2 separate regions of the Homo sapiens genome follow, and region 2 is linked to region 1. Evidence: fine-mapped expression QTL. Tissue or cell type: whole blood. Region 1 holds a variant in brackets; the other region holds the start of a gene. All regions are shown on one strand. Distances are between the middles of the regions.

What was found. PIP is the estimated chance that this variant, and not a neighbour inherited with it, causes the effect.
Region 2: SH3RF3 starts here. The variant in region 1 is fine-mapped to the expression of SH3RF3 in whole blood (INTERVAL, PIP above 0.99).

Annotation. Positions count from the first base shown.
Region 1 is chr2:109,243,468-109,251,647 of GRCh38, forward strand. All of the region lies in intron 1 of SH3RF3 (SH3 domain containing ring finger 3), which reads left to right. It also overlaps a transcript of RANBP2 not described here and the pseudogene SNRPGP9. Among named protein-coding and RNA genes, the nearest start is that of MIR4266, 66 kb to the right of the region's middle. The variant T/C (reference allele first, on the strand shown) is at 4,673.
Region 2 is chr2:109,124,349-109,132,528 of GRCh38, forward strand. It overlaps SH3RF3 (SH3 domain containing ring finger 3), which reads left to right and starts at 4,857. Exons shown (of 10, transcript NM_001099289.3): 1 at 4,857-5,765. The coding sequence starts at 5,193. It overlaps SH3RF3-AS1 (SH3RF3 antisense RNA 1), which reads right to left and starts at 5,771. Exons shown (of 1, transcript NR_029193.1): 1 at 2,979-5,771. It also overlaps a transcript of RANBP2 not described here. RefSeq lists silencers at 4,073-4,132, 4,513-4,582, 4,593-4,642, 4,673-4,872.

The sequences.
Region 1 (8,180 bases):
ATTCCAGCCAGGGAGGCCAATGAACAGGAAATGCTCATGAAAAAAGTCAGATGGGGCAGGTGACATACAGGTAATTAACACCATGGGAACCTATAATGGAGAATGACAGAGAATGACTTTTATATTTGGTGGCTGGGGAACATTTTTAAAGAGATGGTGTCTAAACTGAGAGCTGAAGATATGAGTGGTGAGAAGGGGCCAGGGAGGCAAAGGTCGGGGACAATCGCCTGGTACAGGGAGACTAAGGAGAGATTGAGCATGGTGTTTTCAGAGAACCTCGGGGTGGCCCGAGTGGTTTTGCAATCCAGGAAAGGAGTTTGGGACATGTTCTCTGTGCGTTGGGAAGCCATTGAAAGGCTGTAATCAGGACAATACGTGATCTGGTTTGCTTTAGAAAGATCTTGAGTGAGTAAATAGATGAGTGAGTAGTGAGTGAGAGAGGCTTAGACACCAGAAGAGCTCATGCCACCGACATGCAGCCATGGGCACTTGGTGGTTCTGTTTGCCCTGCCCAGCTCATGTGCTCATAGGTGAAGTTTTTGCCATCAGCAGTGATCATTAAACAGTGAGATGGGTAATTGTAGCGAGGGTATTTTCTCTGTTGGTCCTAGATTGCCTAGAATCCTGATAGAAAGAATAGTTTTCCTTGAACTTACAATTCAGCAAATCCTCTGTAGCTATTTTTTTTGTACTGTTTGAAGGATGTACTATTTATGGACTGCAAAACAATGGATTCTAATCCGAGCTGGAGATAAAACATGACGGGGGCATAAAACATTTAAGAAGCACACAGGAGGTACAACAAAGCATTATGCAACAGCTTCTTCAGGCAAATGTGCACATTTTGCATCTAGGAGCAGGTGAGAAAAGTGACACAGAGCAGAATTGTCCTAATATATAAACCTCAGGTGGTATTATGAAAGTAAATACTATATTCAGTCTTTAGGCAAAACCATCAGTACTGATTTTTGCCCATGAATGCAATTCTGTCTTCCTGATGTGTTGGAACTACCCCCAAACAAATGCCAAATGTGAGATTGAAAATTAAATTTATAGGGCCCTAAGCTGTTTGGAACTGTTTTTAAGATGAGAGCTGTTCCACCTAATAGTTGCTATAGGAATAAGCTGGCAGGATGAGGAAAACCCAAGAATGCCAGTTAGCAGGAGAAGATATCGGAGTTTCTGTTAGGCAAACACAGGGAGGAAATATGGAGATGGTATTATCTGCAGCACTGAGAATCACAGCCTCTAGAGACAGGAGTCAAAGTCACTCAGAACCTCAATGCCCGGGCCCTTGAGGCAGCCTGTGGCCCAGGGCAGGTGCCCCTCCTGCTGCTGGCCTTGGAGGGGTGGCCTGAGAACAGGGGAGGTTTTACACACCTTTCCCACTGCAGCCTGTGCCATCGTCATATTCTGCAGGGTGTGGACACAAGTTAGAAGCAAGACAAAGTTGGCTGGCCCTGAGCTTGCCCTTGGGTTTGAGACTTGATCAGGTGCCAGTATCTCTATGGAGAACTGTGAGTACAGTTCTTGCTGTCTTTGTTGTTGGATGGCGTCCCCTTTAAGTGTTTAGTCCTGTTGTCTGGGCAGCCTTGTGCTGAGGGACCCATTGCTGAGCAGAGTGTGCCCAGTTCTCAGCAGATAGAATGAGAGCCCCTCCACCATCTCACGGGAAGCTCCCCTGCTGGAGCCCACTTGGGTTCTTGCCATGTGGCTTCTGTGCTCCTGGTGAATGTATAGCTCCTGTCTCTCTAGGGTCATCTTACTGGCTGCTCTGAGGTTTTCAGACCACAGAGACAGGAGTAGAGCTGTCTGCTGCCATGGTCAAGGTGAGGCCCATGCCTGTGGTCATTCCCTCTGTCCCCAACTTGGGGACAGTGTCAACCTCTGCTGTAACTGGAATTCCCTCTTGGTGCTTTCATGTAATTTTTGTTTCTTTGTGGTTTTTGTCTGGATATTCAGACCCTCAGAGTCTGGCAAAATAATTTGCACATTAGTGCTTCCTATGTGAGTTGATTATTTTCCTTTCTAAGAGTCAACTAGAAATAAAAAGTAAATTAAGTTTTTATTTTTATTGGACAAACTGCACCTCTAGCCTGACATGTTATTATAGGAACTTGGGCTTTGAGGAGACAAATTTAAGTCTATATATAAAATAACTTTACGAGTTTTCATATTTGCTTCTTATCCCTTGAACTGAGACCATATTTGTTAAGATTTCTCTCTGAAATTGGCCACAATAAATATCTTAACAAATTCAGGAAATTCATTCTAAGTCATCATTTTTGCTATAATTCCTGGACCTTCAGATTTTCTGGTTAAAGTTGCCTCAGGGGGACCCTCAGATCTTTATGGAGTTTGTAAATCCATCATGAGAGATTGAATCTAGAGTACTTAACACTTGAAATCTAGAGTACTTAACACAATCCCGGGCATCATTTACTGGTCTCAGGAAATCCTTTGAGGGAACAAAAAAAAATTACTGCTATAATGAAAGTCTCTAAGCTGGCTTATTCACAAAAAACCAGTGTGGTGAAACAAAAAAAGAGCATGGATTTTTGAAATCAAGACACCTGGATTCATACTTCAATTTTACACCTAGGACTGTGATAACATTGGGCAAGTTACTTAGCTTCTGTTTCTTCATTTGTGAAGTGGGAGGATACCTGCTTTGCAGGGTGGTTGTGAGGTTGACAGAGGCTGCCTTAGGCTTTTCAAGCTGCTGTAACAAAATACCGTAAACGCAGTGGTTTAAAAGCGGCAGCAATTTATTTCCCACAGTTCTAGACGCTGGTCGTCCAAGATCAAGGCACTGGCAGATTCGATGTCTGGTAAAGACTGGCCTCCAGGTTCACAGACGGTGCCTTCTCACTGTGTCCTCCCATGGTAGAGGGGGCAAGGCAACTCTCCGAGGCCTCTTTAGTAAGACACTAATCCCATTCATGAGGGCTCCACCCTCACGATCCGGTCACCTCCCCAAAGGCCTCAGCTCCTAATAGCATTACCTTGGAGGTTAGGATTTAACATATGACTTTTAGGATGACACATACATTCAGTCCATTGCATACTCCAAGGAATATCATGCCTAACAGGATGGCTGGAGAGTGTAGATGTTTCACCACTGTAGTACCCTCCAGCCTTCCTTTCCACACACAGCCAGTGTATCTCCCTGCACGTGTCTTATTTGACCTGTGGACTTAACGTGCCTGGTGGAATTGCCCTGGCTCGTCCTAAGGCTGGATGTCTCTGCTCAGATGGACTGGGAGGCAGTGGGGATGCCGGGGTGGAGATGATACCTGAGCCTGGAGAGCCTCGCTTGCTCTGAGTTGAACTGCAGTCGGATGCCCTAGCTCATCCACGTGCTTCTGTTGTGACAGCGATGCTGGGGGTGTCTTCCTTCCATTCGGTGGCACAGGTTTGATGCTAGGACCCCTCTGACTCAGGGCTCCAGGCCAATGCTGCAGCTCAGCCTTGAGGAGGCGTTCCCAGAGCATGAGGAGGACTCATGGTGGAGGATGCTGGTTAGTCTCTTTCTGGTCGGACCCTCACTTTTTGAGATGATGTGACATCTTTCCTGTAGTCACAACTACATTCAACTCTAAAACCATTTTAATTTTTCATTTTCCCCTGTTTGGGGAATTGTAATCCCATGGGTGTATGGATATTATCCAGAGACATGAAACATGGAGTTTGGGTTTGCAGAGGACAAGGAAGCTATGAGATAAGGGAGAACAGAATGAAGTCACACCCCACACAGATGCCCACAGATTATGTGCTGCAGTGAGTCCTTAATGTCCTGGAATCGGTGACACACCAAGGATGGCTTTCAAGAGCTTTCTTGAGCCCTTTATCCAAATCTCTGCAGCCCCTCCCTGAACTTCGTTAGTTTCTAGATCAGTTTACTTCCTAAGTAACCTAGCACACTTGTGTAAGACCAGCTGAGCTTCCCAGATGATCCCTGAACGTCACGGCTCCTGACCGTTCCTCTGAGGACACTTCCTGGAAGTTTTTGTGCAAAACCATTATTCTTCCCACCTTAAGGCAGGCATGGGTGGTCACGTGTCAGTCCAGCCTGCTGTGCTCTTCCTGTGCAGAAACTCTTGCCTGGTTACACTTGGCGACTTCTCTTTGTAAACAAAGGTGTGAGTGTCCTTAACACCTCACAGTTGACGGACTGGCTGCGTTAGCTCTTCCTTTGTTAGTTTCTGATTGCCAGTGAAGGAGAACATCTTCTATATGTTTTTCCCTGTATCAGTTAGGATTTGCTGTATAACAGAAACCCAAAACTTAGAGGCTTAAAATAATACCTTTTTATTTAACTCACTGTTGTGTGTGTTGGCTGGGGTTACTGGGGCAGCAAGGATGGCCTGGGTTCCTCTCCACATGGTCTCTTATATCCCCCAAAGGCTAGCCTGGGCGTCTTCATGTGGTGGACTGAAGGTCCCAGTAAGCAACAAGAAAAGGCAGACTCCAACGTGCAAGCGCTTTTTAAACCTCCATCTGCATCATAATTGTTGTTGTCTCATTAGCCAAAGGAAGTCACAGGGCTGCCAAATCTAGAGGCAACCTTGGATGGAATATTCCAAGGGCCTGGATCCAGGGAACATGAATCAATTGGAGGCTGTTACTCTACAATCCACCACAAAGTCCACTGCCTGTTTTCTTTTGATTG[T/C]TGATCTTTTATATTAGGAGGAGTTTTTAAAATATATTCTGGATATTAATTCTTTCATTGCTATATATGTTGATTCAGATGAATAGGAGTTCTTACTTTTAATAAACAAGGTCACTTCTCTCAATCTTTTTCTTTTCTGATGTGCTCATTTTGGCTATTGTTTTAAAAATCTTCCCCACCCTTGAAGCCATACAGATATTCTTCTTATTGTTTCCTGAAAGTTTTATGGTTTTGCCTCTCATGATTATGTGTTATCGCTCTCATTTTTTTCCTTTTGGTAGGATAATTAAGAAGTGTTTTTATTAGGTAAGCTCCATTTTCTCACTGCATCAAAGTCATTTATGCAGGCCTGCTCTGCAAGTGGCATTTTCCAAGTGGAATTAAATGGATGTTACTACCCTGTAGTTAATTCCAGTCTAAGACAATTGCAATGCAGACAGAAACCTTGAGACATTAATTGACCAAACATGTATATTAAATAGGTTTGAATATTCAAGTGCAAGCAAATAATTAGTACACTTGGTGAGTGAAGAGAAAAATGAAGTACTGCATTTCTTTCCTTTCCTTCTTTCCTTGCCTCCTTCTTTTCTTTCTTCCTTTCCTTCTTTCCTTCCTTCTCTCTCTCTCTCTTTCTCTTCTTTCTGTCTTTCTCTTTCTGTCTCTCTTTCTCTTTCGTTTTCTCTCTTTCTCTCTTTTCTCCTTTTCGTTTTCCTTTTTCCTTTCCTTTTTCCTTTCCTTTCCTGTCCTTTCCTGTCCTGTCCTGTCCTGTCCTGTCCTGTCCTGTCCTGTCCTGTCTTGCTCTGTCACCCAGGCTGGGATGCAGCCTCCAACTCCTGGGCCTAAGTGATCCTCCCACCTCAGCCTCCTGAGTAGCTGGGACTATAGGTGCATGCCACCATGCCCAGCTAATTTGTAATTTTGTGTAGAGACCACAGCTCACTATGTTGCCTAGGCTGGTCTTAAACTCCTGGCTTCAAGCAATTTCCCTGTCTTGGCCTCTCAAAAAAGGATTGATTACAGGTGTGGGCCACCACACCTGGCCAAGAACTACACTCGTTAACTTCAGCTAAGCAACTCCCCCCCGACTCCTACCCTGTTCTTTCTTCAGGTTTCTGTTGAAAAGTTATTTGGTAAAAGAAGAGGGCCTGAGCAGTGATTCTTAAGATGGAGGGAAGGAAACCTAACACATAATCTTTGCAAAAAATCCCCGAGCAAGTTGGTATTATTGCCATGACTACATGAGGAAACCAAAGCTCAGAGGATCTGGAGAATTGTTGAGCAAGGAACCCTTCCCTCCTGCACCAGATCTCTCTCTCTTTCTCTCTTTCTCTTTCTTTCTTTCTTTCTTTCTTTCTTTCTTTCTTTCTTTCATTCTTTCTTTTTCTTTCTTTCTTTCCTTCCTTCCTTCCTTCCTTCCTTCCTTCCTTCCTTCCTTCCTTCCTTCCTTTCCTTTCTTTCTTTTTCTTTCTTTCTTTCTCTTTCTTTCTCTCTCTCTTTCTCTGTTTCTCTCTTTCTTTCTTTCTTTCTTGACAGAGTCTTGCTGTGTCATCAAGGCTGGAGTACAGTGGTGCGATCTCAGCTCACTGCAAGCTCCGCAAGCTCCGCCTTCCAGGTTCACGCCATTCTCCTGCCTCAGCCTCCTGAGTAGCTGGGACTACAGGCGCCCGCCACCGCGCCCGGCTAATTTTTTGTTTTATTTATTTATTTTTTAATTTTTTTATTTTTTAGTAGAGACGGGGTTTCACTGTGTTAGCCAGGATGGTCTCGATCTCCTGACCTCATGATCCACCTGCCTTGGCCTCCCAAAGTGCTGGGATTACAGGCGTGAGCCACCGCGCCCGGCCTGCACCAGATCTCTACCAAATTTTAAGTCAGTGAAATATAAATGAAAACTTGTTATTTTTACCATGACTGACATCAGTGTTTTTGAGGGCAAAACAGTAGGTGTTCCTTTTTTTTTTTTTTTGTCTAATTAGAATTCTTGTTTTTATCTGTCCTTAAGGTTTTTCTCTGTCTTTAAGGTTTTTCTCCACTCCTAGGAATGTTCCCTAAGGTTTTGATATAATTCAGGAATTTGTATTTAGGGAAAGGCAACTGAACCAAGTTACGAGAATGTTTAGAACTTTGGAAGCCCTGGGGAAGACATCTCGCCCATTGCTGGTTGGACAGAGCCAACGTGGGGGTTTCTAAACATGCACAAGCTAACAGTCTCCATCAGCTCTGAATTCACTTCTGAGCTTAGCAATGTAAGCTTGTATTATATACAACTTCGTTTCTTCATGAAACAATCATCATAATAAATTTTGATATACTCGGAAAACTTACCAGGTTTAAATATTTATTATTATTATTAAAATAAATGGAATAATAATGGACTGGATTTTAAAGGATCTAGAATTTGACCGTTTTTCTTTTTCAAAACATGATAAATACAGAAAAACCTTTAACAAAATAATAACAGTAATAATAATAATAATAGTGGTATGTTTCCTGGGCTAAATTTAGAAAACTATTGAGTATGAGGCAAATATGGAAAACATATTTATATCAAAGGAGGACCTAGAAGCAAACTACCATAACTTGCCAAATTCAACTTCTATGTTTGTTATAATTTAGTAATTAGCTATTTTAGAAAAAAAAAGTGCTTCAATAGGGAATTAGGATTTTCAGAATTTTGAAGCCCTGGGAAATAATTATATCCAGTGCTGTTTAGGTAGAACAAAAAATCAAATCACTTACCTGGAGTAAATCCAAAAAAGTGAAACCATTTTAAAAATTATCTTTTTAAATTTCTAAATTAACGTTGTTTAGGCATATACATTGCATTCTGTATAGCTTTTTTTTTCAAATTATTAATATTTTTATTTATTTATTTTTTTTGAGATTGAGTCTCACTCTGTCGCCCAGGCTGGAGTGCAGTGGCATGATCTCGGCTCATGGCAACCTCTGCCTCCTAGGTTCAAGTGATTCCCCTGCCTCAGCCTCCCACAGTAGCTGGGATTACAGGCATCTGCCACCATGCCTGGCTAATTTTTTTATTTTTAGTAGAGATGGGGTTTCACCATGTTGGCCAGGCTGGTCTCGAACTCCTTACCTTGGGTTATCCACCCGCCTCAGCCTCCCAAAGTGCTGGGATTAATTACAGGCGTGAGCCACCATGCCCGGCCCAAATTATCTTTAACAAAGAATTAGAGAGATGCAAGACACCCGGCCTGCCGCGGGAGCATGAGGGAGTCTGTGCATTCCTTTCCAAGGCATCTGTGAGTGCATGGAGTAGACACCATGAGCAAAGCTCACCCTCCCGAGTTGAAAAAATCTATGGACAAGAAGTTGTCATTGAAATTAAATGGTGGCAGACATGTCCAAGGAATATTGTGGTCATTTGGTCCCTTTATGAATCTTGTGATAGATGAATGTGTGGAGATGGCGACTGGTGGGCAACAGAACAATATTGGAATGGTGGTAATAGGAAATAGTATCATCATGTTAGAAGCCTTGGAACGAGTAT
Region 2 (8,180 bases), 120 kb before region 1:
ATTTTAGTAGAGACAGGGTTTCACCATGTTAGTCAGGCTGGTCTCGAACTGCTGACCTCAGGTGATCTGCCCGCCTCGGCCTCCCAAAGTTCTGGGATTACAGGCGTGAGCCACCGTGCCTGGGCTAATTTGTTTTATTTTTAGTAAAGACAGGGTTTCACTATGTTGGCCAGGCTGGTGTCGAACTCCTGACCTCAGGTGATCCGCCCGTCTCGGCCTCCCAAAGTGCTGGGATTACAGGCATGAGCCATCATGCCCGGCTGCAGTTTTGTTTTAAAAATTGTCAGAAAATACATAACATAAAAGTGACCATTTTACCCATTTTAAAGTGTACAGTTCAGTGGCATTAAGTGGATTTGCTTTGTTGTCGTCCTGTGTTAGTTTTTAACCAGTAACTTCCAATCTTGTGTCTCCCTGTATCAGATTTCTTCTTGCCCCAAATGAGTACGTTTAGGGTTGCCTGACTAAACCTTCCTCAACCCCACACGGTGCAATGCCTGGCGGAGATCCTCCAGGGTTCTGCAACTATAGCTGCTGTTCAGTGCAGTGATGATTGTCTCATATAGAGGGGCTTTGTTTATCGTAAATAATGTGCATCAATTTGGGTTCCCAGTTGAAAACAACAAAAATGGACTCTGGTTGATTTAACGAAAAAGAAACTAAGGAAATGAAATTGGAAAACCCATAAGATCAACAGCAAGGCCAGGAAAGCAGTGGAGGCTACAGTCCAGGCTCACCAGGCAGTCAAGTCTGGGGTTGGCCTGTTGCCAAGGCGTGCCCCCACTCTGAGATGCTACAGGCTGCAGGCACTGCTGCTGCCAGCCACCTGCCCCATAGCTGCTGAACTCTCGGTGCTTCCTCTGCCCACGTCCCTCCACCTCCCAGAGTGTGGTGGGGGAGGGGCAGCTTTTGACTAGCTGAGCCTGTCACATTCCCACACCTTAGCAGAGTTGGTGGGGGGGTTAGAATTATCTGACTATCACCATGTGGAGCGTCTTCCAAATCTAAAAAGAAGTTCAAATTTTGGGCCGCCAAAAACCTGACATACAGCCGTCCAGTCCTGTTTCCTCTGAGCTTTTTCTCCTTTGGACAGACGCCCTGTGTTCCTTCAACTGAAACTCATGGATGAGGCCTCCGGATCCCTTACCACATCGTCATTAATTTTTGGTACCCAGAATTGGAAGTAATCTCACAAGTCTGAGGTACAATGGGATTATTTTTTTCCAAACCCTGACCACCCCCCACCTTAACTTTCATGAAGGCATCCGAAGATTTCGTTACTTCTCTAGTCAGCCATAGTACATAGATGACTCATGTTGGCTCATACAATGCTTGTGGTCAACTGAAATCCCCAGATCTTTTTAGGAATGGCTGTAAAGCCAGGTCTTCTCAATTATTTACTTATATAATTGGCTTATTGAACATGTGCAAATTTAACCGAGTAACATAAGACTGTATTTGTAATACTTCAACTATTTAGTTCACACCCTCAAATTCCCTCACGCTGTAGCACAGTGTACTTGGCTACTTCAACCAGAAATTGTAAACTGGCGGTCTGTAGGCCAATTTGACCACACATTTATTTTGTTTGGCTAATATGGTGGTTTTTGAGAACTAAATCGGTTGCCAACTGTTGAACATCAGGAGATGTCATGTAAAAAGCAGCACTTCCAACTTCTCTTGAAAGGTATGAAGGTCTAGCAACATTTGGTCGTCATTCCCCCAGGGCTGGAGCTGGGCAGCAGCTACTTCCTCTGAAGGGTGCAGACAAAGCTCACTGCAGTCCCCACCAGGCCCTGTTGCCTGGGGTTCACCCTGCTTCGTTAATTTCATGCCCTGCCCAGTCACTGTGGACATCTGGGTGCATAGTCTGTGTGTCCTGTGGGTGCTGGTTATGGCAGGGGCAAAAGGGGTAAAGTGGAGAGAGAAGAAAGCTGGGAAAGGTGGGCTTAAGTGGCTCTCTCTTGCTCTTGTCTGTCTTGGGTCGTGCAAGATAAAGATGTACTGAGGGCAGAGATGTGGCGGTGAGCTTCTGGCACGGGCATCTGTGGTTCTGACTGCCCAGCACGGCAATTCTTCTGGAAATTCTCACTTCTCCTGTGTGACTACAGAGAGTGCTGCCAGGTTCCAGATGATCCTGCTCCTGTGGCCAAGGCACACGGGTCCAAAGAGTGACCACTGGTCCATACTAGTGATAGAGTTTTAGAACTTCCAGGAGTGGCTGATGTTGTTGGAAGAAAGGCTCATGAAGATTTGACCGCATTTTCTGTCATGTGGGTTGGGAAGCAGAGGCAGCTGGTGCAAGAAAGTGAAGGGTTGAGTCATCAACTAGAGACAGGGACAGCAACACACACTGCAGGCTCTATCTGTGCTAATCTGGCTCAGCTCTTAGCCTGGGATCCTATGAGATGCCTCGTATTATTAGTGTATATTCTGCTCCCTTTAAAATTTACCTAGAGTTGGTTTCTGTTGCTTGCAACCAAAAGCACCAGGGCATGTCGTCACAGGCCGTCCTTGCTCTCTGTGAGCCCTTCCAGTGCCTGATGGGTCCCCTCTTTATGCTCCCCCTTGTCTACCATCTGCTCTTGGATCAAGCATCCTGGGTGCTCTAAAAAATTCCCCTTGTTCCTGAGCAAGGGTAAGAGTGAAAGGTGGCTCATGTGAACATGTTTCCATGCACTGCGAGGTGTGTGCCCTTCCTTCGGCCCTCAAGGGAAGCCAGGCAGCTCTGGGATGCTTTCCATCTCACCCTGTTGTTGGCGCTGATGTAAATCATACAGATGGAAATCCACATTGCTGAGAGACATCCAGGTTAAGAAAGCCACCTGCTGCTATCAGAAGCAAAGTTTCCAGGGACTAGCATCCTGATATAAGCACAGGATATGTGTAATTGAGATACTAAGATCTGCCTTCAAATCACCAGTAGGTGATGAGAGAGAGAGAGAGAGAGAGGGAGAGAGAGAAAGAGAGACGTATCCTTTCATTAATTCTACAAATATTTATTGAACACCTACTATATGCTAGTCACTGCCCTAGGCACTAAGGATATTACAGTAGAAAAGATCTGTAGCTTACAGAGAGCTTACATTCTAATGGCATGTAAACTTTATGTGTTAGTTCTGTGGATACAAAAATGAAAATTCAGCCCCAATGGCTTTACAAGTATGAATATCACTTTCCTCATTTGTAAAATGAGTTTAAAATAATTATCACAGGTTGGGCACCGTGGCTGGCGCCTGTACTCCCAGCACTTTGTGAAGATGAGGTTGGAGGATCTCTTGAGCCCAGGAGTTTGAGACTAGCCTGGGCAACATAAGGAGACCCTGTCGCTACAAAAAATTTAAATTAAAAATTTAGCCAGGCGTGGTGGCGCACCTGTAGTTTCAACTATTCAGGAGGCTGAGGTGAAAGGATGGCTTGAGCCCAAGAGTTTGAGGCTGCAGTGAGCCGTGATAGCACCCCGCGCTCTAGCCTGCCTGACAGAACGAGATCCTGTCTAAAGCTATGGAAGTAAATATAAATAAATAAAATAATTATCTGGCAGAGCTGTTTAGAGGATTAAATAATATATAGCACGCTCTTGGCCTTTTAGCCTCAACAAATACTACTTTTTTCCTTAATAATAACAGAAAGATCATACAACTTCACAAACCACAAGGACAGGCTGGCCGATAGGCAGGCCCCCCACGACTCTTCTGATGTTAGCCCTGACTGAACTCGCTGTGCAGCGTCCAACCAATCCTGGTTTGTGCTGGGCCCTGGACTGGAACCCAGCCCTTCCCGACGGGAACGCAAAGCGGCCACGAGGGGGCAGCGCACGGCAGGGAATCTTCGCCGCCGACCCCAGCCCACCGCCAAACTTCCCTGCTGCTCTCGGTCCTCCTGTACGTACTTCCGTTGCTCTGACGCTCCCAGAAGCCGGGGCGTCGGGAAGGAGAGCGCGAATTCACCCTCCTCTGCGCCTCCGTAGGAAAAAATTGGAGCGGGGGTTCACGAGACTGCGCCGCGGCGGGCGCTAGAGCCCCTCGCACAGCGTCGCCAAGGGTGCGGCGTGGAGCCGGGCGCCTGGCGCCAGGGTGCTGGTCGGCGGGCAGCGGCGCCAGCCTCCGACCCGCGACTCCGGCGAGCCAAGGCTGCGCCGGGAGGAGTCGGCGCGGGCCCCGGGGTGCCCCCTTCAACTGGAGCGCCTTCCCCTCCTGCCTTGCGGCGCATCCCCACACCTACACCGGAACGAAGCTCCGGGGCTGTCACTTCTGCGCGCTTCTCGGAAAGGAGTCTGAACTGGGAGCGCTCCGGGGGGTCGTCGGGGAGGATGCCCGGGCGTCGGCTGTGTCCCCAAGCTGCTCGCCGGCGCTGGCGAGGAAGGCAGTCGGGATAACGCCGCCCAAACTTTCCTTCGCAGCAGCGTTGGCAGGAAACGTCCCTCTCTGAGGCTCACGAAAAGCCGAAAAAGACTCGGACGCTTGGAGGAGGCAGGGCCAAGCCTGCGCAGGAGAGGTTCCCCGGAGCCCTGGAGATGTCCTAGGGGACCAGGCTAATCGCCGGCTTGCGCCCAAGCGAAGGGAAGTCCTGCAGGCACGGCGCCTCCTTCCCTGAGCCCCGCAGTGACCGTGACCTCCGCGCGCACCCCCGCGCACGTGCTCGCGGCCGAGGAAGAGGAACGGTCCTGCTGAATCCTCTGGAGGACAGCGACTAGCGAGCAGGCCAGGGGCGCATGGAGGTGCCGCGGGGGCGGTGCGGCTCGCCAGCTGCGCGGAGGAGCGTGCACGCCGCGCCCCGGCCTCCCCGGGGACCTGGCCGGCCGCTGCCCGCACTTCCTGCCGCTGGTCTCCCAGGCGCGAGCCGCCGCTTGCAGCACAGAACCCGTTGAGCTTCGTGCCCGGCAGCACCCCCGGTCCCCCGCGCGGGGCGGACTTGCGGCGGGACAGGTGTAGCCCGCAGCCGCAGGCGCTGCGCTCAGGACTGGGCGGGCTCGGCTGGCCGGTCCCCGCCACGCAGGCCGGTCCCCGCCACGCAGGCCGGTCGGTGAGCCACTTCGCACCGCCACAGCCCTAGCATCGGGCCACCAGCCGGGGTGAAGAAAGTCACGGCGGAGCCCGGCTCCCCAGTCCTGATGCTGGCTGCCGGTGGCGGGCTCCACGCCGGCCCCGGGACCTAGGCAGCCGCGCGAGACCGCTGCGGGCGCCTCCCCCATGCTGCTCGGAGCGTCCTGGCTGTGCGCATCCAAGGCGGCCGCCGCTGCTGCGCAGAGCGAGGGCGACGAGGACAGGCCAGGCGAGCGACGGCGGCGTCGGGCGGCGGCCACCGCCGCGGGGGCGGGCGAGGACATGGACGAGTCGTCGCTGCTGGACCTGCTGGAGTGCTCCGTGTGTCTGGAGCGCCTGGACACCACGGCCAAGGTGCTGCCATGCCAACACACTTTCTGCCGCCGCTGCCTGGAGAGCATCGTGTGCTCGCGCCACGAGCTGCGCTGCCCCGAGTGCCGCATCCTGGTGGGCTGCGGCGTGGACGAACTGCCCGCCAACATCTTGCTGGTGCGACTGCTGGACGGCATCCGTCAGCGGCCCCGCGCGGGCACCAGCCCCGGCGGCAGCCCGCCCGCGCGTCCCATCCCAGGCCAGAGTGCGGCCCCCACGCTCGCGGGCGGCGGGGGCGGCGCGGCAGGCAGCACCCCGGGTTCCCCGGTTTTCCTCTCCGCGGCCGCGGGCAGCACCGCCGGCAGTCTGCGGGAGCTGGCGACCAGCAGGACCGCGCCGGCGGCAAAGGTGAGTATCTGTCTCGGCGGAAGTGGCCACGGCACGTGGGAGTGTGTGGGTGGGTGCTTGGGCGTGGGGGGCAGTGATGAGGTGCGGAGGAGACCACGGGTGGTCCTGCGTTGGCCCACTCCGCTGTTGCTCTTCCTCCAACTTCGCTTGCTTGGTGGCGGCATCCGGCCCCTGGGCAGCTCGCCGCTTGTTCACGTGTGTCCCATCCTCCTGTGGAGTGGGCACGCCTTCCTGTCCCGTCGCTCACCCCCGATTCCTTGGCCGGACTTGTTACCCTGCCTCTTAAACTTAGCATCGCCCTTGCGTCTCCCTAGAAACGGGGACCTTCTTCCTCTGGGTCCCCAGACACTCCCTCTGCACACCCTGGGCCTGCCTAGAGAAAAGTTAGCCCTTAACGTTTCTGACAGGGCTCTGATGGCTGCTCTGGGAAGCCCGCGGGCCTCCTGCCTGCGGTGTGGCTAAGGAGGGGAGGGCAGAAGGCAGAGTGGGACTGGGGTTTGGAGGAATGCTTCTAGTAGTCTGGAAGGAGTTAATCTGGAGGCCCCAGGAGCCTTTTGACCCAGCCCTTTTGGACTTGGCAGTGTCTAACCAGAAGCCAAGGTCTTCTCCTGGGCTCCCAGGCAGGGTTGCATTCCCACGGGGGTCATTTATATTTATTATTATTATTTTTGGTACAGCCGCATTTTAGGGCCTTCGCTGCTTCTGTTTTAGACGAAAGATCTTCTCTGGATGGCTTCAATGATTTGGTTTTAAAAGCTTCTTACAGCTTCTTATTACACACCCTTGCCACCTTGTGAACAGTTACCAGGAGAGAGGGCATGGGATGCTGGTTTAAATGAGAAAAGAAAGGACCCGGGTTTTGTTAATTTCTTTAAATGGAGAAAAGCACTTAAATGTTAAAAAAAATACATTATCTATTGGAATAATCATTTGCTTTAGAAACACAACTTTATTCCTCTACTTTTGACCATTTAAGGAGTTGGTGATGCCTAGTCCTTCCACTATGTGTAATCCTGAAATGCTGGGAACATTCTAGCACCTGGATTAGGCAGTACTGCAAATCTCTAAGGTTAAGGTTAGGAACTTAAACCCTTGGATGTTGAGCTTGAGTTAAATGCCATACTTTGCTGCAATGGGTTTTTTTTTCTATGGATCAGGAAGAATGGGGACAGTCAAGGATAGTCACTGGGGGTCACTTGGGGGGCACTGCTGAAGGGGAATTTTTTTCTTTGGTTTTAATTGTGATTAAATCCAGCTAAATGCTTGCGTTAGAAATTTTCAAACTTTTCCTTCCTGGCCTTGCTGTTTTTGATGTAAGGTATTTATAATTAAATATCTTTATTTGCAGAATAAGTGGGTTACCTTCTTCTGTTCTGATAAATTATGTGATATTCGGAGCCCCGCTTCTAGTAAAACGCTGGGACATTCTGATGACCATCTGTTTACAGATGTCCTCTCAGTTTATCTTGGGGGACTTTGTGTTTGACCAGGAGGTTAGGAGGTAACCTCTGACATGTGACAGGCTGAAGCTTTGATGCCACTCCGGGAATTCTGTGGCATTTGTAGTACCTTTTAGAACTTGTCAAAGGGGTTGAAGCTTGGAACTTTTTAGTAGTGACATTTAGTATTAGCAGGAAATTGATGTTTTACTCACCATATGTTGAGACCCTTGGTTGACTTTCTTTATGGGTGCATAGTCATGTTCATGACTTTTTGTGTTTTTGGGATGTTTCTGGATGTTGTTTAATAGACGAGCACTTATTTAACTAATAAGCAGGAGTCCCGCATGGTGTATTCACACTACACTAGCACTATACTACCATGCTGGGATAATAGCATTAGGTCCAGCACATGCTTCGGGAGTGGGAAGGATTGTAATAGCATATCAGGCATTGAGCAACCCTATACAGTTGGTTGACAAAGATTTCGGCTGAAAATTACTTTTGGTACTTTACTGTCCATTGGAATTGCTTGACTCCTGCCAGGAAAGTTGAATGCTGGATGTTGTTGCATGTTGTTTAATAGAGGGGCACTTATTTAACTAATATGCCATGATAGCAGGTAACCATAAATATTACAGTCCCATCATTTTCCAATTAGAAGCTCCTTACATCTTCTTTTGGGCCAATTAGGGTATGTATACTTTTTAGGTATATAGGTAAGTATTGGCATAGCTTGTTTACTTTATTAATTTTGTTACGGTTCAATATTTTGACAGCTTTATTTAAAAAAAAGTTTTAATTTCTGTTTGGTTTTACTGGCAGGACACAAAACAGTGTTTTCCTGAACTCTTTACCTGTTGTTTTTCATCGGTTTTGGTGATCACCAGAGTACTTGGAGTCCCCTGACGTGGTTAGCAGAACCTCTCAGCTCTGCTCTCACCTGAGCCATTTGAGATAAAGCGCTTTTGTGGAG